2 separate regions of the Homo sapiens genome follow, and region 2 is linked to region 1. The links come from fine-mapping of genetic effects on gene expression. Tissue or cell type: blood mononuclear cells. Region 1 holds a variant in brackets; the other region holds the start of a gene. All regions are shown on one strand. Distances are between the middles of the regions.

Region 1 (10,657 bases):
AAAAAAAAAAAACCCATCTCCACAAAAAAAATTATTTTTAAATTAGCCAACTGTGGTGGCACACCTGTAGTACTAGCTACTCAGAAGGCTGAGGTGGATCACCTAAGCCTGGAAGGTGGAGGTTGTGGTGAGCAGAGATCGTGCCACTTCACTCCAGCTTAGCAACAGAGTGAGACCCTGTCTCAAAAAAAAAAAAAAAAAGAATACTAGAAATCACATCAAGAAGAAAAGTTCAATAAAATAGGTTGTCTTTCTTCATAGAAATGATGTTTTAGAGTTTATTATTTATAAGAACTTATAAAATAACAGCTAGATATGATCAATAATATAATATTTTCCAAGAACAAAGATATGACCGTAAACCTTGCTAATCATTTGACTAAGTAAAATAAATTCCTAGCTTTGTTAAATGGCCACCGCTATGTGTGCAGATTTTATAAAGGCTCCAGTCTTTTAGAAAAAGTAGCCCACATACCATAAAAATACAAGTTGACCATCATAAATTGTATCTTAACATTTTTTTAAAAAATTATGTTAGTGGCTGGGCACTATGGCTCATGCCTGTAATCCCAGCACTTTGGGAAGCCGAGGCAGGAGGATCACCTGAGGTCAGGAGTTCGAGACCAGACTGGTCAACATGGTGAAACCCCATCTCTCCTAAAATATACACAAATTAGCCAGGCATGGTGGCGCACACCTGTAATCCCAGCTACTCGGGAGGCTGAGGCAGGGGAATCGCTTGAACCTGGGAGGCAGAGGTTTCAGTGAGCCAAGATGGCGCCACTTCACTCCAGCCTGGGTGAAAGATTGAGACTCCATCTCAAAAATAAAATAAATAAATAATAAAGTTATGTTAGTTAACACTGCATTTATTTTTTATGATCTTTGTCCTATATCTCTACCATGCTGACCTTGGTAGTATGACTGGATTCTTCTTGGGTATGTATTACACCTGAAGTCATTACAGAAGACACTCAGTCCCTTCATCCACCCCAGACACAAAGCTTAATAACCATACCCAACCCCTTTTCGACAGCCTGCTGGCCACACTGACTTTCCTATAAGATAAAAACTGCCGTATGTGGGATAGCTCTTGTTAGTACACCAAGAATGACTTCCCAATAGTAAAATTACTCTTACCCCAAAATGTAAGAGAGAGTGAAGAGATGCAGATATTTTCCCTATGTTAGGCACTTCATGTACTAAGACATTTTTCATTCATTTCATTTAGAAGCTTGTTTGGAATTCTAAAAAGTCACTTCAAAACTTTCCTCACCGGGACGTCAAGACAGGCATACAACGGGAAAGTGACTAGGGATAAGTTAATACTGGTACCTTCACCAGAGGAGGAGTATGCAATGTGGAAGACCTGTTGCTGCTGTTGAGTAGTTTTCAGTCTAGAGGAGTTAACATGCATACAAGAAAGTACATATTACATGGGGGTTAGAGAGGTTTCAGAAGGGCTGTCTGTGGCTGAGATCTTTGAGGCAGAACTGTTGAGACGGAAGGGATTGGCATGAAGCTTTGGAAGACTGGACGTGTGGTTGTTTCCCAAATATGGTACGTATGCCACTGGTAGTACAGTGACTGATTTTAGGAGGTCCCAGGTATAGTATTAAATCATCTTCAGTCATATCACAAAAAAATTAGTTCCTTTTCAGTGTCCTTGGAGTCCTTGACATCATTCACAGAGAATGCCTGCGTTTTGGGCTATGTGATCTCTGCCAGCTCACAGAAGCTTACCTCTTTTTGTGCCATGTAGGTAGATGGGGATTCATAGCCTTTGGCAGGCAACAATATCTGGCTAGAAACTAATAGTATTGGTGTTTTTTTTCCTCATTGAATTATTTCTTATGGTTTTAAACATTTTTTAATGATTTTTAATGATATATTTAGGGGAGTATCAGTTTCCATTCACATAGTATATAGGGTTTCCTTTTATGTGAATTAATTTTTTTAATACAAATACATTAAGTAACCATAAGTTAAAGTAAAATACAGGTAGCGTATCGCTTATCCAAAATGCTTGGGACTGAAGTGTTTTAGATTTTGGATTTTTTTTTTCAGATTTTTGGAATATTTGCATTATACTTACTGGTTGAGCATCCTATATCCAAAAATTTGAAATCTGAAATGCTCCAATGAGCATTTTGTTTTAGTGAGTGCCATATCAGCTCTCAAAAACTTTCCAATTTTGGCATATTTTGGAGTTTGGATTTTTAAATTTGAGATGCTCAACCTGTACCGATAGTAAATAGAAAACAAGGCAAGTGGGTTAGGATGTTCCTCACATAGATACAGCATGACTTTTCAGGGGAAGAGAGATTCCAGCAAAGATCCTGGGATGGAGAAGGTAACATTTTGAGAGAAAGGTGAGTAAGAAGTTGGCAGAAGCCCAGGGGGTCCTGTTGAAGAGTCAGAGTTGGACGCCTTCTAGCTCAGCTTGGTTGCCAGCGCAGGGAACAGAGGGCTGTAGCTCTTTGCATCTTATACTCAAGGCTGTCTGCAAAGTGATTCAGAATGGTTTGAGCCCCTGATCATTTCAATGCGGGGTAGCTAGGGCATATGCCTACGGGAGCCAGGAAATTACCCAAGTGCTGGAATGGCCGGGGGGCTAATTGGAGAGGACCCTGTGTTTCCCACTCTCCTCCCTCAGTATTGCCAGAAGGTCAGATTTTTTTCTGAGAAGCCAGAAATGTGAATTTTTATTGAAAGTTCCCAACTTCTACAAGTTTTTTTAAATACTAATTACAGAAATAAAACTTAGAACCTTTTGGGGGCCAATTTTGGGGGTGATGGACATGTCCTGGAGTTAGATAGTGGTAATAGTTGCACAACATTGTGAATATAGTAAAAACCACTGAATTGTAGATTTTTAAAATGCTTACAGTGGTGAATTTTATGTGATATGAATTTTATCTTAATTAGAAAAAGAAAAAAACACTATGAGGGCCCAGCCAAAACATGTTGCCTGCCAAAAGTTTGTAAGCTTTGCTTCAAATGGAGGAATTGCTATTTGCTGCTTTTCATAATCCCAACAGAAAGCACCTTTCCACAGGGGAGCAAGTGATTGGGAATTAATGGGGGTCATGTTGTGATCCCTACGTTAACCTCTAGGCCTCTGTTTTTCTTCCTGTGGTCTCCACGGCTTCTTCTATCTCCTAAAATAGGACCCATGATAGAAATGGTGAGATGTGGAGTGGTGGACTTTCTTTTAGAGTAACGAGTGAGTAGGTGAAAAGACACAGCTACGAAAGGTGGGGGCTGCTCAAGTATTTTAGAGAAGAAATTTATTTTATTTTGCAACTACTTATAACATTGATTGGTTGTGTTATGTTACTTGCCAAAGTTTATTTTACCCAGATATTAACCATTAGAGAAGTAATTAATCTTCAAGACAGCAAGTTCGTATATTTTGGAAAACGTTTTTCAGTTCTTACCAGGGAACGACTATAATGATCTTTTTAGTTATTTTCTTCAAGTGGAAAATGAGTTTAATATAGCAAGTATATGTCATCAACATCAAAGGATTATATAATTATTTTAATAAAACAATTTGTCTTTGTAACTTTTGGGAGGCTCTATTAAATTTTAAATATAATTTTAAGTTTGCCGATTTCAATAGAGGCAAAATGTTCAATTTAGGATCTTAAAGTAAGGATTATATCCTTAGTTAATCTTCAGCTTTTTTTCTTTCGTAGCAAACTAGCAAAGAAAGGTAGAGTTTCTGCCTTTTTCTTATGACTTAAACCTAAAGAATATGACTTTTTAAAAATCTTGAACCAACATTTGTACTAAAAACAATTATTATTTTTCAAAGTGTGGGTTATTCAGTAGTTTTTGCCAGTTCCAAATGTTATCAGATGACTTTTTGGATGCCTATCTTTAGTGATGAAATGTCGCATTTAGAATAAACACTTTCCACCCAAAGAACACTGAAATTAAAATGAAAAAATATATATAAACTTAAATTTTCTTTTTTGTTTTTTTTTTTGAGATGAAATCTTGCTCTGTTGCCCAGACTGGAGTGCAGTGGTGCAATCTCGGCTCACTGCAACCTCCCCGTCCCGGCTTCAAGAGATTCTCCCACCTTAGCCTCCTGAGTAGCTAGGATTACAGGCATGTGCCACCACAGCTGGCTAATTTTTGTATTTTTAGTAGAGATGGGCTTTCACCATGCTGGCCAGGCTGGTCTCGAACTGCTCTCTGTCACCTCAGGTGATCCGCCCACCTCAGCCTCCCAAAGTGCTGGGATTACAGGTGTGAGCCACTGCACCCGGCAAAAATAAACTTTTTCAAAAGGACTGCATTGGAATATTTATTTCATATGTAAGAGTATTTGAAATATAATTAAATCTAATGTTATTTATTTGTAGCCTCTTATTTCGGTTGTTTTATAAAAATCAGTATTCATTGTCTTCCCACCCCCCCCGTCTTTCTGCTCCCCCAGAAACAACCTGAGAATGCTTTTAATCCAGCAGATACATATTAAAGATTAATTGGTCATTTATTGCAAGGAATAAACAATAAATTGTAACCAATCACTAGGATTTACTTTCAGGGAGTACGGAAACAAAAGTATGATAAGCAGTTTCCAACAGCAGTTAGAGACAGGATAGAGCATTTCTGAATGGACGGTCAATGAGGACTTCCTGATATTTGGAAGGTGATATTTGGGAGGGACTGTGGGAGACTTCACCAACTCAAGACAGGTCCCCCTTGATTCCTTCATGCCTCTGCTCAAATGTCGCCTTTTCGGAAAGGCCTTCCCCAAGTACATCAAGTACCCTAGATAAAATAACATAGTTCCCCCTCCCATACACACATTTCATTTTTCTTTTAGCCTATATTGCTGCTTGACGTATTTATATATGTTTGTTTGTTTGTTTATATATTAGGTGTCCTAGAATCTGTGCTTCCTGAGAGTAGGCACTTTGCCTGGCACATAACAGTTGCTTAATAAAATAAAAGTGTATTGAATGAGGCTGGGCCTGGTGGCTCATCCAGTAATCCAGCACTTTGGGAGGCCAAGACAGGAGGATTGCTTGAGGCCAAGAGTTTGAGACCAGCCTGGGCAACATAGCGAGACCCTGTCTCTATCAGAAAATGCAAAGATTAACCAAGCATAGTGGCATGCACATGTGGTCCCAGCTACTTAGGAGGCTGAGGTGAAAGGATCACTTGAGCTTAGGAGGTCAGAGTGACATTGCACTCCAGCCTGGGCAACAGAGTGAGACCCTGTCTCAAATAAATAATTAAATAAGAAGTAAAAAAAAAATAAAAAATAAAAATTTGTTGGAGAAAGAGTGAGGGAATGAATGGGGGAAAGTTTTTCTGCCATAAGGCTCTTGACTGTGTAGAGCTCCAAACTGGTATGGAGAATCCAAGTTCAGTTTTCTCCTGGGATCATTGTAAATTTGTCAAATTTACCACCGCTCTGTGACTTAGTTGACACATTCTATAGAAATAAGGAGATTTTGGTACTCAAATGTAGCTTCCTGAAGTCTATGAACAAGTGTTATGAAAACAAATCATGATCACTCTTAACCTTCCCACCACTTCACCTTGCAAACCCCTCGTTAGAACCTCATATAAGTTGTGTTTAAATTATTTCACAAATCC[A/AT]AGACCCCACACATGCCCCTCAGTTTCCAACATACGGGTACACTGCTGGGCCAGATTTTTAATTCCTGACTACCCAGTAGGAGTTGTTCCACTGAAATATAATCACATTTATTTCTGTAAGGCAGTGATTACCTACGCAAATGCCTACAGAACCCAGGAAATGAACAGAAATGTGTAGATGGCCAGGAGGGATGTGGTAAGCTGGAAAGGGTAGTCTTCTAAAGGAGGCAGCCATAATTTAGCTCAAATCCATTGTTGTCATATGAGAACGTGGGCCCATTTGGTCAGATCTGATTGTTCAAAGAAAATCAGACACACACATGTTGAAGCTAAATTTCCCAATTTTCTAACATGGACCACTAATCCTAAAGTACAATCCTGGATGGGCCAAATAATATGATATCCAGGTTACAACTTCTGCAAGGCATCCTGATCTAAATAAAACGGGGATGCCTGGGCATGCGGAGAGGAAAGGTTAGAAAGGGGTAACAACCACTTCACAGAGAATATAAATGCTGTGCTGGTGGTGAGCAATACTGCTTCTATAGAACTCTGGGTTTTTTTTTCCTAGAATTTCAGAGCTTCAGAGTGTCTTGATATTTAAAATGAGATCGTTTACATGAAAGCCTAGCAAATTCCATCTTACTCTTTGTTTACCTTTAACTGGATCTAGCCTCCTGACATTAACATGGCTATGAAATGCCTAACAACATTTGGATACAGTTATTGAGGAAAAATTGTGACAAGAATGTTGAGAGGTTGTGCCAAGATGCATATTTGAGAGATGCCCAAGCTGAGGCCAAGAGGTTACTGCTCCTAAAATATTCAAACAGATGGGTTTGGGATCTTTGCATGGAAGATTCCAGAACATTTGCTGTAAGGATTGAGTTAACTAAATATGGTCACTTCTCCAAACAAAAGTAGCTGGTTATTCTGTATGTTTTGGCAAAGGGCAGGGAAGAAAAGCAATAGATTAAAAAAATGAAAATGCATTTCTTTTACACAGCTTCCTCCCCTTTAAAGCAAAAGGTGGCTGGGCGCAGTGGTTCACGCCTGTAATCCCAGTGCTTTGGGAGGCTGAGACAGGAGGATCACTTGAGGCCGGGAGTTTGAGACCAGCCTGGCCAACATAGTGATAACTCATCTCTACAAAGAGAGCCTGGCATGGTGGTGTGCGCCTGTAATCCTAGCTACTCAGGAGGCTAAGGTGGAGGATCTCTTGAGCCCAGGAGTTCAAGGTTGCAGTAAGTTATGATCTGGCTACTGCACTCCAACCTGGATGACAGAGTGAGACATTGTCTTTTAAAAATAAATAAAACAAAAGATAGTTTGTATCCATATTTAGGGTTATGTGTTTATTCATGGAGTACAGATAAATTCATTTATTAAGCTCTAAATAGAAGAAATTGAGTTGATTTCCTGATACACCTTCATGAATTGCTGTAAAAGAGAGTGAAGGGTTCCATGGAGGCAGATTAGAGCATAGGGTTTAGTGCACCCCATGCTAGCTGGAGGGCACGTGTTAAGCACTTTGAACAATACAGAGATGAAAAGGCATGTACCTGTACCTTACTTGTCAAGGATTCTAAATAGATAAGAGAGGAATTTAACTCTTTCACAAGACAGAAAAGCAGGTTAGGAGAGATTTATTCTGGCCATTGGATTTGGAAAAGCTTTTTGGAAGGGGCGGCATTTACATTGAGCTTTACAGGATCAATAGCACTCTTTCAGGCAGGGATGAAGGGGGAAGGTGAAGGCAGATATATAGCTTTTCTTTAGTTTCTGTTCCCTGATGTGTTTGACCTGTGCTCCTTCATTTGATTTGTTTTATTTTTATTTGATTTGATTTGAGACAGGGTCTCATCTGTCACTCAGGCTGGAGTGGAGTGGCGTGATCTGAGTTCACTGCAGCCTCAACCTCCCAGGCTTGAGCAATCCTCCCAGCCCAGCCTCTTGAGTAGCTGGGACCATAAGCATACACCACAACACCTGGGTAATTTTTTTGTATTTTTAGTAGAGATGGGGTCTCTCCATGTTGGCCAGGCTGGTCTCAAACTCCTGACTTCAGGTGATCTGCCCACCTCAGCCTCCCAAAGTGCTGGGATTATAGGCATGAGCCACTGTGGCTGGCCTGTGCTCCTTCTTTTTAGTTCGAGGAGTTGCTTTATCTGGGGGAGCAGGCAGGCTCTAAGAAGTGGGATTCTGCAGCTGGCAAGCAGCTTCATGGCATTTGGTAGGCAATTTATAAACAATGAACATTATCCTAATTTCACTTTTCTTATAGAGCAGCTGTGTGCTATAGTAAGAAGTAATGGGCCTCAGCTCTGCCACTGTTTATGCACCCTTAGATAAGTCACTTGACTTCTGAGCCTCACTTCTCTTATCTGGGTCCCCCAGGGTTAAGTAATAACAGGACCAAACCAGAAATTCATTTAAAAGTGTTAGTGAAAATATCTTGCAAACTGTAGAGTACTATACAAAAATCAACTGTAAGTTTTCTTGTCTTTGTTATGTGGCCAGGAGCAACCTGATGAAACCAGAAAGGGTGTGTTGACCATTGATGCCAGCTGTGGGTCTGGTTCAGTAACTTCACTCTAGTGTGCTGGATTTTAAAATGTTACTGGTTTTCTAAGCCCTGCATGAATATAAATATTCATCAAGAGTCAGGGCCTCTGGCAGGACGGGAGAATTTAGGGATGGAAAAGTGTAGAAAATCACGGAGCTGTTGAGAGGATTATCCTCTACATTCTGGTAGATGATTGGATTATATCAACAGTGGAAAGGTTTTATGTCTTCAAGAAAATATGTAAATAAATCCAGCTTAATTGAAAAGTCTTTAGAAAGACTAATGTATCCTAATTCAACATAATAAATAAGGAAGATTCATTTAATTTCAAAAGACAAAGGATAGTTCACTAAGTTCAGTTTTGTATAAACAATTGTAGGATATTTTAATTTAATTTCAAAGCCATTTTGTAGCCTAGCGGTAGAGTTAGGCTCTGTTCAAACTTTGGTTTACAGTATTATCTAGAATGGGCTAACTTTTCTATTCTCTTGGATACTTTATCAAATTTTTTTAAATGTTTAATATAGTGAGCTCTGTTTAGAAAACATTTTATCTATATTCCTTGCACAAGCTGACATCTGTATTTTTGTGAAAAAAATCTTGAGAGGGAATTAAATCTGTCCATAATCTACTCACAGCATGCCTTTATAGCCAGAGTACGTCTGAAAATTTTAAGTATGGCATTCTAGGAGTACAGCTCAGAGCAGGCGTGTTCCAACTTTACTATATATCAGAATCAGGTAGGGTGCTTCCTACAAATGCTGGCTCTCAGACTGCAATCCTGGAGATTCTGATTCCGTTGGTTTAGCCATTTCTAAGAGGCCTCCGGCGCTTCTGTGGTGGACGGCCCATGACACTAAGAATTCTTCCTCAGATACCTGCTATATCTATCCTCTCCCTGCCAAACAAAGCCTTCTTGAAAACCAAGTATTGGCTGGGTGCCGTGGTTCACGCTTGTAATCCCAGCACTTTGGGAGGAAAAGGATGGCAGATTGTGTGAGCTCAGGGGTTCAAGACCATCGTAGGCAACATGTTGAAACCCTGTCTCTACCCAAAAAAATACAGAAAATTAGCCAAGCATGGTGGTGTGCCTGTTCCTGTTGCTCAGGAGGCTGAGGTGGGAGGATTACCTGAGCCCAGGAAGTTGAGGCTGCAGTGAGCCATGATTGCACCACTGCCCTCCAGCTGGGTGACAGAGCAAGACCCTGTCTCAAAAAATAAAAAATAAAAATTAAAAAAACGGAGTACAGAGACTATATACCACAGTATAGAGGCCATTCCCCTGTCTCTTTTTCCTAGGATGTAGTAAGAAGGTCCACTCCTGTGAGCAGTCCCAGGGTCCCGGGTAAGATTTCTTGGTTATACTCCCAATAAGGGTGGCACTTTGGCCAGAGGAGTTTTACCAGGGACAGAGTGGCCAATATGGTGAAACCCCGTCTCTACTAAAAATACAAAATTAGTCGGGCATGGTGGTGGGCACCTGTAGTCCCAGCTACTCAGAAGGCTGAGGCAGGAGAATCGCTTGAACCCGGGAGGTGGAGGTTGCAGTGAGCCAAGATCGCGCCATTGTACTCCAGCCTGCAAGACTCCGTCTCAAAAAAAATAAAAAAAAACACCGAACAAAAAACGGAGTACCTTTGTAGTATTTCCTGGGTCTTAACAAGCTATATATAATGTTTCAATTTTTTCTAAAATTCATAGGAGACACATACATCCTTGGGTTTCTGACATATAGGTACACTGATGAACAAAATTTTTTAATTCCTAATTAGCCAGTAGGAATTCCACAGATCTGCTCTGAAATACAATCATATTTATTTCTATAAGGCAGAATCTTCTTTTTCTTTGAAGTCAATCTCCTTTTGTGAAACTTTCCTCAAACCTAACCTCCCTCTATCACCCCATCAGCAAAAACTAATGTTTCCACTCTTTGCTACCATTGCATTTTTACATGTTCCTGTTACACAATTTATGGTGCATTCTGCCTAGCTGTGTACTCATCTATCCCCGGACCAGTCCCTGGGAGTCTTGAGTGGAGAAGAGGGATAGTGTTATTTATCTTTGAAACCACAGTATCTTATACATTATACACACTCAACAAAAGTTTTTGTTGACTGACTCATGTCTTTGGGTTTATGTTCTCTCTTTTCGCCACACTCCTTTCACAAGACCTGATCATAAGACCTGTGGCATCCTATACCAGCAGAACGTTTACAGTATCTACCATAATAATGATAATAATAATAATAATTGCTTACATCAGTTGACCCAATTATTTTATATTTGGTGCTGTTCTAAGCACTTTATATGGATTACTTTCATTTAATCCTCTTGGTAGTCCCATTTGCAGATGAGGAAACTGAGGCATAGAGAGGTTAGATAATTTGCTCCAGGCACATGAGCACTCAGTAGCAGGGCAAGGCCCCTGACCCAGTCTGACTCTAGAGCCGGTGCTTGCAATTACCATAA
Region 2 (10,657 bases), 21 kb before region 1:
TATGATCATAGCTCACTGTAGCCTTGAACTCCTGGGCAAGAGTGATCCTCCTGCCTCAGTCTCCCAAGTGGCTAGGACTACAGGCATGCACCACCATACTCGGTTAACCTTTTAAAAATTTTTTTGTAGAGTTAGGGTCTCTCTATGTTGTCCAAGCTGGTCTCAAACTTCTGGCCACAAACAATCCTTGCACCTCAGCCTCCCAAAGTGCTGGGATTAAATTCATGAGCCAGTGTGCCCAGCCTTACTCTATTTGTATTGTACTAAAAGTGATACACATTCAGTAGAAACTATACTTTGAACACCCATACAACCATTCTGCTTTTTTTGCTTTCAGTGCAGTGTTAAAAAGTTACCTGAGATAGTCAACATTTTATTATAAAATAGGCTTTGTACTAGATAATTTAGCCTAACTGTAGGCTAATGTAAGTGTTCCGAACACATTTTAGGTGGGCTAGGCTAAGCTATGGTGTTGAGTATGTTAGGTGTATTAAATATATTTTCAGCTTATGATGGTTTTATCCTGATGTAGCCCCATCGCTAAGTTGAGGAGCATCTGTACTCAGCACTTAAGGCTACTTGAGGCACAGAGCTTGATCTTCTGCAAAAGTGTATAAATGACTCCACTGTCATTTTAGCATTCCCTTTTTCAATTCTAGTATATACAATTTTCTTTTTTCTTTTTCTTTTCTTTCTTTTCTTTTTCTTTTTTTCTTTTTTTTTTTGAGATGGTGTCTCACTCTGTTGCCCAGGCTAGAGTGCAGTGGCACGATCTCAGCTTGCTGCAACCTCCACCTCCTGGGTTCAAGCGATTCTTCTGCCTCAGCCTCACAAGTAGCTGGGATTACAGGAGCCTGCCACTGTGCTCAGTTAATTTTTGTATTTTTAGTAGAGATGAGATTTCACTGTCTTGGCCAGGCTGGTCTCGAACTCCTGACCTTGTGATCCACCTGCCTCGGCCTCCCAAAGTGCTGGGATTACAGGGGTGAGCCACTGTGCCCGGCCATAAATACCATTTTCTTAAGGCTAAGAGAGCCAAATAACCTGGGCCAGGGAGAGGCCATGGAGAGATACCCACTTAGGCTTACTTGTGTTATGGAAGGGTAAATGTAAATGTGTCTGAGGATAATAGGAAGAACTCAAAGCCTACAGGCCTAACCAGGTGAGACCAAGACACAGATCTCTCCCGCATATGGGGAAACAGGAGTGACAGCCAACTTTTTATATAGATCACGGAAGCCTTCGAAGGCTTTCAAGGGTGTAGACAAAAATGATACAAGAGAAGTTGAAGAAGGTCTCAAAGTGAAATTGAAGGAAGCAGATTCAGCCTCAGCAGGTTAGAAAAAAAAATGACCATTTTTGGTGACCTGAAGTTTTTGCGAACTAGAGGCTATAGGTCCATAACTAGTTTACAGAGGTGCTTCATATTTTTCACTGCAGAGAACATATAACATTCTTGAATGTGAGTGGAATATTTGATACCTCCTAATTAAAAGGTACCTTGTCTTCCCAGTTCTGCCGGCTGGCCTTCTAATTTGTGTGAGTCTGAAAACTCACTGATCTCCCCTTTTCTTAACAGACATCTGGGGAGCTGTGAGCAAAAGGCCTAAAAGTCAGGCCTTTAAAAAAAACTCTTTGAACAGCTTTATTTAAGGCATAATTTGGAAAGAGATTTTTCTGCTGCCCTGTGATAAAGTTCAGTCGAGAGTTGGTGTTAATAAACCTTCCTTAGAACCAAGGTGACTTGGAAAGTTGAGTTCTTTAGGTCTGTGGTCAAATTAACAAAATTATGTCAATAAGCCCCAGGTGAGTAGGGTCAATTTACATATGACACACACAAATATTTGATTATACCTCAATGAATGAATAAACCTTCAGAATCTTAGCTACCATTTTCATTCTTCCATCTTGACACAAAAGGTGGGAGTTCCATTATTAGACACTTGCAGGAGTTCAACATAGTATTTAAATTTAAGTACAGTTTGTTATTAAATGAGAAGTGTTGCTAACTTAGTTGCAATTTTGTATCAGGCGGGCGGTAATAGTTTGTTGGTATGACTTCCATACATGTTGCCATGTGAAGGATGTTTGGGGTGTTTCTTAAACATACAAGAATCAACAAGTCCCACCTACAGGAGATAACAAATCATTATGATGTACTGGACCATTATTCACTGGGGCTAAGAAGTAAATTATCCCCTTTTGAATAAAAGCACAGCAAAATCAAAATGACCTAGTACATATCTGAGAGCAGCAGAAGGCCAAGGGGAGCCCTAGAGAATCAGCTGCCCTTTGTCACCATGTTGCAGGGTAGGGGTATGGGGCAATGCAGCCTGCCCAGAGCAGATGGCTTTGAGGTTATACGGGAGACTGAGGAATGTACTTATTCACATAAAGCCTTTTAAAATAAGCTGAGCATTCATTGCTCTTGAGCTAAAACAGAGCATTCTTCCCCAAGGTGACTGCTTGCTTGCATTTAAATACAAAAGAAGTTTCTCTCCAGGCTTCCTGAGGCCGATGGTGAATGTTCAAAGATCAACGAAGCTAACATGAATCTAAAATGAATTATAAGGCTGACGGAGCGCTTGAACTATTCATTCAGCAGTTGTAAAACAAGTAGCACATTAAAGGACATGTATTTTAACATATCTTATGTGGTTTGTCCCCAGTTGGACTTGCAAAATGACATTTAATAAATATTTCTTGTAAGGGTACTTTCTAAAAGAAGAGAGTGAAAGTAATTCTGCTGTAGGCAGATTGGGCCTGAAATTTGGGTTGTCTGGATTTGCATAATCATCACCTTGAAAAGGTGTTGCTTTACCCCAATTATAGATCAGTGGAAGCTCTCTTGTGTAGCACACGGCCCTGGTGAGATCCCTTAAGATCTCTTGTGGACTATCTGTGGACATCTGGGTTGCAGTGAGGAAGGGCAAGGATAGATGGTATAGGGAGAGAGGGGCAGAATGTTGACTTGGGCAGGACAGGAAAAGCCACTTGTGACTGGTGAGGGAGCATTTCTTTGGGTTCAGAATCATCCTCATCTCAGTGTATCTCCCCATAAGTCTGAGATTACTGAGTGCAAGGTATACATATCAGCAGCTCCTGACTCAGGATGTGTGGCAGAGGGGACCATGAAGTTAACTGTGACTTTCGGAAGGGTGCAGTCTGTTACCCTTTCGGTGGCGAGGTCAGTTTCCGGGAGGCTCTGCAACACTGATATTTTCCAGATGTTTCTCCTCTTCTCCCTTCTCTGGCTGGCTATATCTTCCTCCCTTCATCCTGCTCTTTCAGTGAAATTGAGATAACATGTTAGAATCTTAGGCAGGTTAGAATCTCTCAGCAGTAGGATGTGATTTAATATCTAGACCTCTTACATTAATATTTATAATAGCCTTCACTGCTTGTGAATAGCATAAGCACTCTTTTCTGTTCAAAGTCAATACTGAAATAAAACCCAAGAGTATGTTTTATAAAAATTTACTTTTAATGGTGCAATGGTAATAATCTATGTAGTCCTTATGGTTTTCAAATCCCTTTGTGCTTATATTACCTTATTTAATACAGACATAAATCTGTGAAGTAAATAATACTATTTTTATCTTCATTTTACAAATGAGGAACTGGAGGCTCAGAGAGGTTAATTTGCATAAGGTCATACAAATGATAGATGGCAGAACTGGATTTAAGTTCAGACTCCTTAAATCCATGTCTTTTGTACGTTCTTTTCACTAAATTTGCCATAGTGTTTCTATTGGTTTTTGCCTATATAAAATCGGAAACGAAGAAAAAGAAACGAACTGGAAAATAAATTTGTCAAAAGAGTATATTTTTTTCTCATAATTTCCAAGCGGATCTTTCAGATATGTTATTTGAGGACTTTTTGCCTCAGACTGGCGATAAAACAAGTGTTCTACAAAATACCTCCGTAAGACAGGCCTATCAGTGGCAGCTCTTGTCCCCGCTTTGCAGAAGGGAAAACCAAGGCTCCACAGAGCTAAGGGGACTTCCTCTCAGCCAATTTGTAGGGGCCTGTGGGCCAGACCCGGGGGCAGAATTGAGATCTGTTGTGAAGGCTGTCCGGCTTCTTTATTCTATCAGCATTTCAAATCCTGAAAACCTCCCCTTTGGCATTTTGAAGGAATTCATCCCCAGTTTTTGCTGGTAGCCGGGAGGGAACCGTGCTCTCCCCCTGAGGAAGGCCCTTTGGAGTAACTGCAGCAATGAGTGCCCGGGCTGTGCTTGGAGTACCAGTGCTCGCCCGGGGCTATACTGAATGAGTAAGCAGCCCCGTCTGCTTTTGCTGTGCAAAGGTAAGGGTGGAGGCCGCTCCACTTTCTTCAAAAGGCCCCGCTCTGGGACTTGTGAAATTGTGCTCTCTTAAGCTGGTCCTTGCAACCCCATGGACGATATCCATGCGACTTTCCTACAAAAATAACATACCAAAGCCGCTTTAAAATCCGTAATTTTTGGGTTGCAAGACTCCAAGACAAAGTCAAATGGGCATCAAAAAATGTAATCCAAAAATACAGAGGCATTGGTTCTACCCTATATGCATTTGCTATTTATGTAAAACTACAGTGTGCTCTGAGATGAGACTTTTTTTTTCTTTTTATACCTTTTTTTCCGCCCGTCTGGTGCGTTTGCCGACGGTTCTTCTCGGCCCTGTGTCTCGGGAGAGTCGGCTGCCGTCTGGGCCTGTGCCCCACCTGCGTGCGCCCGGGCCGAGCCAGCCCCGCCAGGTCGCCTCCGCCCGGCTGCCGGCCCGAGCGCGCGGCTCCGGGGGCGGACTCCCGCCGCCCAGCTGACACGCGATTCGTCACTCTTGCAGAACTTTCCCCCTGAAAATCCCTGCACCAGAACCCGCTCTCCCGCCCCGGGGAGGTTTTGATTTTAGTGGCTTTCTTCCTTTTATTTTCCGTCGTGTGCGGATTTCGCTGCAGAGCGAACTTGCGGCTCGTCCGAGTACATGTGAGCGGTAATCGCCCCTGCAGCTGGTTATCCTGACATTATGCACTCCGAAGCAGAAGAATCCAAGGAAGGTAGGATTCTGGTTTCTCCTGGGGGCCGGCCAAGTTCTGCGGAGGAATTTGGAGGAAGGCAGTGGTAGAAGAGGATGGGAGTTTTAAAGTGAGCGGTGGGCACTTTGTCCGCTTGCCCTGCGCCTTCGAAGCCAAGTCGGAGCTGGATAAGCGGAGCCCGGGTCTCATCTTGGGCTCCCTTCTCCCCCCGCAGCCGTTCAGAGGGGAGGGGAGGAAAAGTCGGACCTAGTTCAGCCAGCCCACTAAGTCTGCTTTTTAGCTTTCTCTGGAAACGAAAGAGCCCCACTTGGACTCCAAGAATGCAAAATGTGCTTGGAAAAGGGCTGCCTGCCTGCATCAGAAAGACTGAAAGCGGGATCCCTGGAAGAGCCCTGAGTGGAGGGTCCCTTGAAAAGGGGTTTGAGAAATTAGAAACGCTATATGTTTCCGGCTAAAAGGGGAAGCTGAGTGAGGGGAAGCGAAAATCTGTATTTGAGAAATAGATTAATTTTTTTTCATTGCTGGGTTTTCAGCAGTGAGTTCATTTCGTTGGGGGTTTGAGGGGGCTGAAAGATATGAGGGGGTCCTTGTGCAGCTTGAAACTGAGAAGAGTTTGTCTGTTTCTAACTTCGCAAAAGCAAAGGGTTTCATTTACTCCTAACAGAGAACAGGTGACAGGGCTGGAAAAGCTCCAACCAAAACACAATTATACGCTGGTGTTAGTTTGGGGAGTTTATTTGTGTGTGAGTGTTTGTATGCTTTGTTCCTTGAAACTTTATGTATACAAAAGTTCTCTTGTAAGTGGGGGGTGGGAGTAAGGGTGGTTGGGGAAAATTAGAGAGTAAGAGAGGAGACTATTCAAGATTGTGAAATACTCTTTCTTTTCATGTAGTCTCTTGGAAAGCTGGTTAATTTCAAGTCAATCACAGCAGTTCTGGCAGAGGAGCAGCCCCATCATTTCTCCATTTGGTAGACACCAGTTAGGAAGAGCCCTTGAAACTTGTCCTCTTCTGCCTTTTACTGATTCCCCTCCCAGAGGAAAGCTTTGTGTTTCACCATGTAGTCTTTGTGGGCTCACGTTTACCTTATTATGCTGTGTGAGGGAAATAGTCAATAAAAAGGAGGTTTGTTTAATAGAAATACGGGGCTGGCATGAATGAAAAATGACAGCCAGGAGCATTGTTTTTGAGTTTGATGTGGAGTATGGGGGGAGTAATGCTTTCTTGCCGTGTCCTGTGTTCTGATGGAGCTGTGTGCTGATAGATGCTTTTCTTTTCTATGTCTTTATACCAGCAGTTTATTCAAAGTCAAAGGTAGTTGAAGGCAAATAGGAACCAGGCTGAGAGAACTCAAGGGTGAACTTCTGTGTGAATTACAAGTAGCACTTAAGCTGGCGTTTTCTCTCAGGTGTGTTTTCCCTGTCTTTTGAGAAAGAGAGAGTGGGAGAGAAAGTGGAAAAACAGTATCCCAAAGTGTGTATTATACATTCCCATAGCAACATCCACAGTCTTCCCTCCTCGAGGGCCCAGCTCTCTGGTTTTAAGTTTGGAAGCAGCCTGCAAACTGGCCTATGAAGAGGTTAATGGGGCCCCTTCTGCTTGTTCCTCACCTTCCCTCCACTTGTCATCATTTACATTCTGCAGATCGGCCACAAATGATATGGCGCTCTGCTTTTTAAAGAAAGCCCAGAATGTTTCTTTTAAAATAATCTGAGGTAGTAGAATTTTAAATTGATAGCAATTAGGGTGGGATACTGAATAACTCTTGAGGGAGATTGAACACTTTATTAATCAGATAGAATCATATAGCTTCTGCCAGGAAATGAAGGATAGGTGTCTGTGTGTTTTGGGTGTGTTTTCTCCAAGGCTGGTTCATTGGCTGTAATCTAGAACCTTCTGGTTAGCTACCACCACTCAGATGTCGATGAAGCGAGCTATGTTGTGTAAATAACTCAGTTATCTTCTCTATCGTTACTAGTCCTTTTCCTCTTATACGTAGCTTTTTTTTTTTTTTTCATCCTGGTGAACTTATGTATCCCATTTAGTGTGAGATCACCATGAGTTCTTAAGAATGTCTGTATTGCAAGAAAACTGCCTTTGGATGCTTCATGCCTGATACGCTGTAAGAGGAGATACTTTTAAGTCATTTTTCTCAACTGTAGTGAGAGACTAGTATACTTTGGGGTTGAATCTAAGTCCTTGGAGGCCAGCATATTTTTGCATATGCGTGAATGTAGAAGCAAATGACTGGGGATATTGTTAAGCCATCAGAGCTTAAAACATACTTGACTCTGTGCCAGGGGTGCTGGATATTTGTCCCCAGCCTATAGCCATCTCCTAAATAATTGATTTAATTTTTCCTGCTTAACAATGAATAAGTGATTGTGCTTGGGTATTAAACAGAGAAAAATAATCCAGGCCTTGCTTTATTAAAAACTGAATGAGTTTAAATTATTCAGACATAGAATAAATAGGAAAGAAGGGGAAATGAAAGAAGAAACTCACTTTTTTAAAAAGGTGACTACCATTAAAAAGAGGATATCAACAGTTTCCAGTGGATGGGGCTTCCTGAGGAGATAGGCTGATAGCCGTGTATTTGGCATTTAGTTGTTTCCTGAGTAAATTGCTTAATTATGAAGTAGTTAAAGTGAGTGGCAGTTGAGATCTCTGAGAATCTTTCTAGTGCTAAGCATCAAGGCATCCAGGGCTCCTTTGCTCTGGATGTTGAAGCATTGATACCAGAAATTGAGAAAGCCATTGTTAAGGGGTGGGCGAGGTGTCACTTTGTGGGGACTTGGAAAAGAGTGAGGATTGAGTGGTGAGTGAGTCTGGCTCGCTCCTCCATTGCCCATAGTAGCCATTTCCCACCACCACCTCACCCAGTTCTTACTCTCATGCCTCACCAGGCCTGCTATTTCACAAAGAAAACAGTAGCCATTAGATAACTCCCTCAACGTCCTGTTCCCAGACTGACAGACTCATCTCCGTCCACATCTATCCTCCCTGTGTCTGTGGAACAGGTGTCATTCCTACTGCAGAATGCCCCGCCTTCCACCTTGGGCTCCTCCTACACCAGTCAGCCCATATCCTTCCTGGCTCCTTCTTTTCTGCATATAGAAGAACTCAAGCTCCCCATTCTAGGACATTGGCACTTGCTGGTCTTCCTGCCCAAAATATCCTTCTCTCCACCTGACCTCCTTTTCTTGGTCAGCTCTTTAAAGAGGCTTTTTCTGAACCTAAACTCAGATCCCCTGTCGCCCTCTCTCAGAGCACCTGTTCCTTTCCTTGCTGGCTCTCCCCACACTGCTTAACATCTCTTCTAGACCACAAGCTCTGCAGGGAAAAACAATGTCTGTTTTATTCCCCGCTGTATGTCTAGGACCTACAGAGTAAAAGGTGCTCATTAAATGTTGTAGATTGAGTGAATGGTCTCCATTCTTTAAAGTTAATCCTTGGCAAAAAAAAAAAAGTTTAGTTGTTCCGTAGTGGTGATTAATATCCTCTTCTGTAATAAGAATCCCAATGATATTTTATAAGCTACCACACTGTGTAGTACTCTGTTTTAACCTCACATGGTGTGGCAGCTTATATAATATCATTCATCACTAAGGACTATTTTGTAAGTTTTCTCCCCTATTCCTGCCCTTCCCCAGCCTTTGCTTTGCAGAGGGAATGAAGAGAAAAGGAGGTTAAAGCAGTGGTTCAGCTCTGATGAAACCAAGGGGTATAGCTGACCTTGATGTCATACATAATGTAAAAGGTACAGCATATGCTCTTAAACACCGGACTTTGACGTGCTTATCTGTTTCCTTTTATGTAGTCATTAGGCTTGGAGTGTTGTGTGCTGACAAGGACTAAAAGTGGAAAATCCATTTAGAGATCTATCATACTCTCTCCTCTACAGTGGACATCACTTGATAACTTGGCATTGCCAGACACCTCCAGCTCTGTAAACTTAAATGCATTTGGAGCTTTTTTCCCCTCACTTCTGAAATTTTTATCATATTGAATATGCATCCTACCTTTCTTGCCCCCACCTTACGCCATTGAACAGTCAGGATTATATGGATGATTAAATTTCCTGCTCCTGACTGTTGGTGATCCAGGAAGTAGCCAAAAAGTGGGTGGGTGAAAGAGAATGCAGTAGAGCCAGAAAAACTCAGGACCCAGCGATTGCATTTCAGAACACTGCAGAATTGCTGGATTTACCTATAAATCATTTATTTGTCAGCATTTCTGTCTTTATGCTAGCAACTTGTAAGTCAGTGAGATTAGTGTGGTTATAGACCTGTCTTCATTTAGAGAAGATTGTTCTTTAAAACATAGTGTAAGCTGAATTAAAACAAAACCAAATGATATGTATATCTTTAATGTTTAAGGAAGGTCTGTAGTAAGAAGTCTTCTGTAATTTAAAGTGCCCTTCTCCCACCAAATACACATAGAATCACCATGATTTAGAGCTAAAAGCGACTTTGCCAATCCTTCTTTCTGACCTCTTCATTTTAGAGGTGAGGCACTGAGGCCCAGCAAGGTGATTGCCAAGCCCTTTCTATCCTCTTTAATACATGTTCTGCAAGCAAGGATTTTTGCAAACACAGGTTTTAGCATCCTGGGTATTTGTATGCACTCTCCTTGAAGTAGGACAGACCTAGTCTGTTTGTATAGTTGTCATTCACTACCTCTTGGGGGGATTTATAAAACGCAGATGAATGTTTAAACAAATGAAGATTTCCTGTTTCACCTTCTACGTGTAACTCAAGAGAATAAAACATGAGACATTGTGAAATAAAATTTAGCTCTGCAAGTAGATCCTATTAGATCCCGGATTTTGAAAGTTGTAGACCAAGTGAGAGGCAGGTAAACAGTGAGCTCACTTGTTTTCATTCCTTTGAGAATATCATTCAGGAAAAATTAGCTATTGAGGGTGTTGGTTGGGTACAGACACTCTTCCTTGGGGAGAAGGTATGTATGTGTGTGGGTGGGAAGGGAGTCAGCATTCTGACACAGAATGTGCTATTGCAAAAGCAGACATCCCACAGCCTCTCTTTCTCTGGAGCACATTGCAGCAGGCCCGGTGCACTCTGGGAGTCAGGACACCTTTCTCAGGAAGCATTTGCGGGGCTGCAGCGCACTGCCCCCCCAGCCGCTGACCAAGATATCTGAAAGAGCAATTGCTTAAATTTTATTCTAAAAGTTTATAAGCCTTGAAGAAGAGGTACAGGGATGTAGTATGTCCTGAGTGACTAACTGCTGAGTTGGGAATAAATTGCCTAAGGGAGTGCTGCCCTGGGAATCTGTAAGATTGAGTAAAGCCTGTTAGTTAAGCTGGTATTTATATGGTTTTGAAGATGGGGGAGGGGAGGAGTTGTGTTTATGTGGACTTAATGATAATACATTCTCCAGCTTTGTAGTGAATAATAGTTAATTTTATAAGTAACTAGGAACAGAGTTTCTTCTAAGAAGGTGATGAAGCAAAGAGACTATAAGCAGAATTCCCTACGTGGCTCTGATAGCTTTAGGTGCCTGAAGCCTCCAGACCACATTTGTTGAAGTCAGGGTTGACTGTCAAGAAGTGAATAAGCAGCTCATGAATTTTCCTTCCAGTTTGACCTGCCATTTATGCTTGGTGCCAGCTCACCT

The links. PIP is the estimated chance that this variant, and not a neighbour inherited with it, causes the effect.
Region 2: TNFAIP8 starts here. The variant in region 1 is fine-mapped to the expression of TNFAIP8 in blood mononuclear cells (TOPMed, PIP 0.97).

The regions. Positions count from the first base shown.
Region 1 is chr5:119,372,139-119,382,795 of GRCh38, forward strand. The region is part of intron 1 of TNFAIP8 (TNF alpha induced protein 8); the gene reads left to right. Among named protein-coding and RNA genes, the nearest start is that of TNFAIP8, 21 kb to the left of the region's middle. The variant A/AT (reference allele first, on the strand shown) is at 5,623.
Region 2 is chr5:119,351,083-119,361,739 of GRCh38, forward strand. It overlaps TNFAIP8 (TNF alpha induced protein 8), which reads left to right and starts at 4,937. Exons shown (of 2, transcript NM_014350.4): 1 at 4,937-5,039. The coding sequence starts at 5,009. It overlaps LOC102723444 (a long non-coding RNA gene), which reads right to left and starts at 4,691. Exons shown (of 5, transcript XR_007058912.1): 1 at 4,616-4,691; 2 at 3,173-3,284. RefSeq lists an enhancer at 3,894-4,033 and silencers at 4,684-4,843, 5,472-5,766, 5,564-5,623.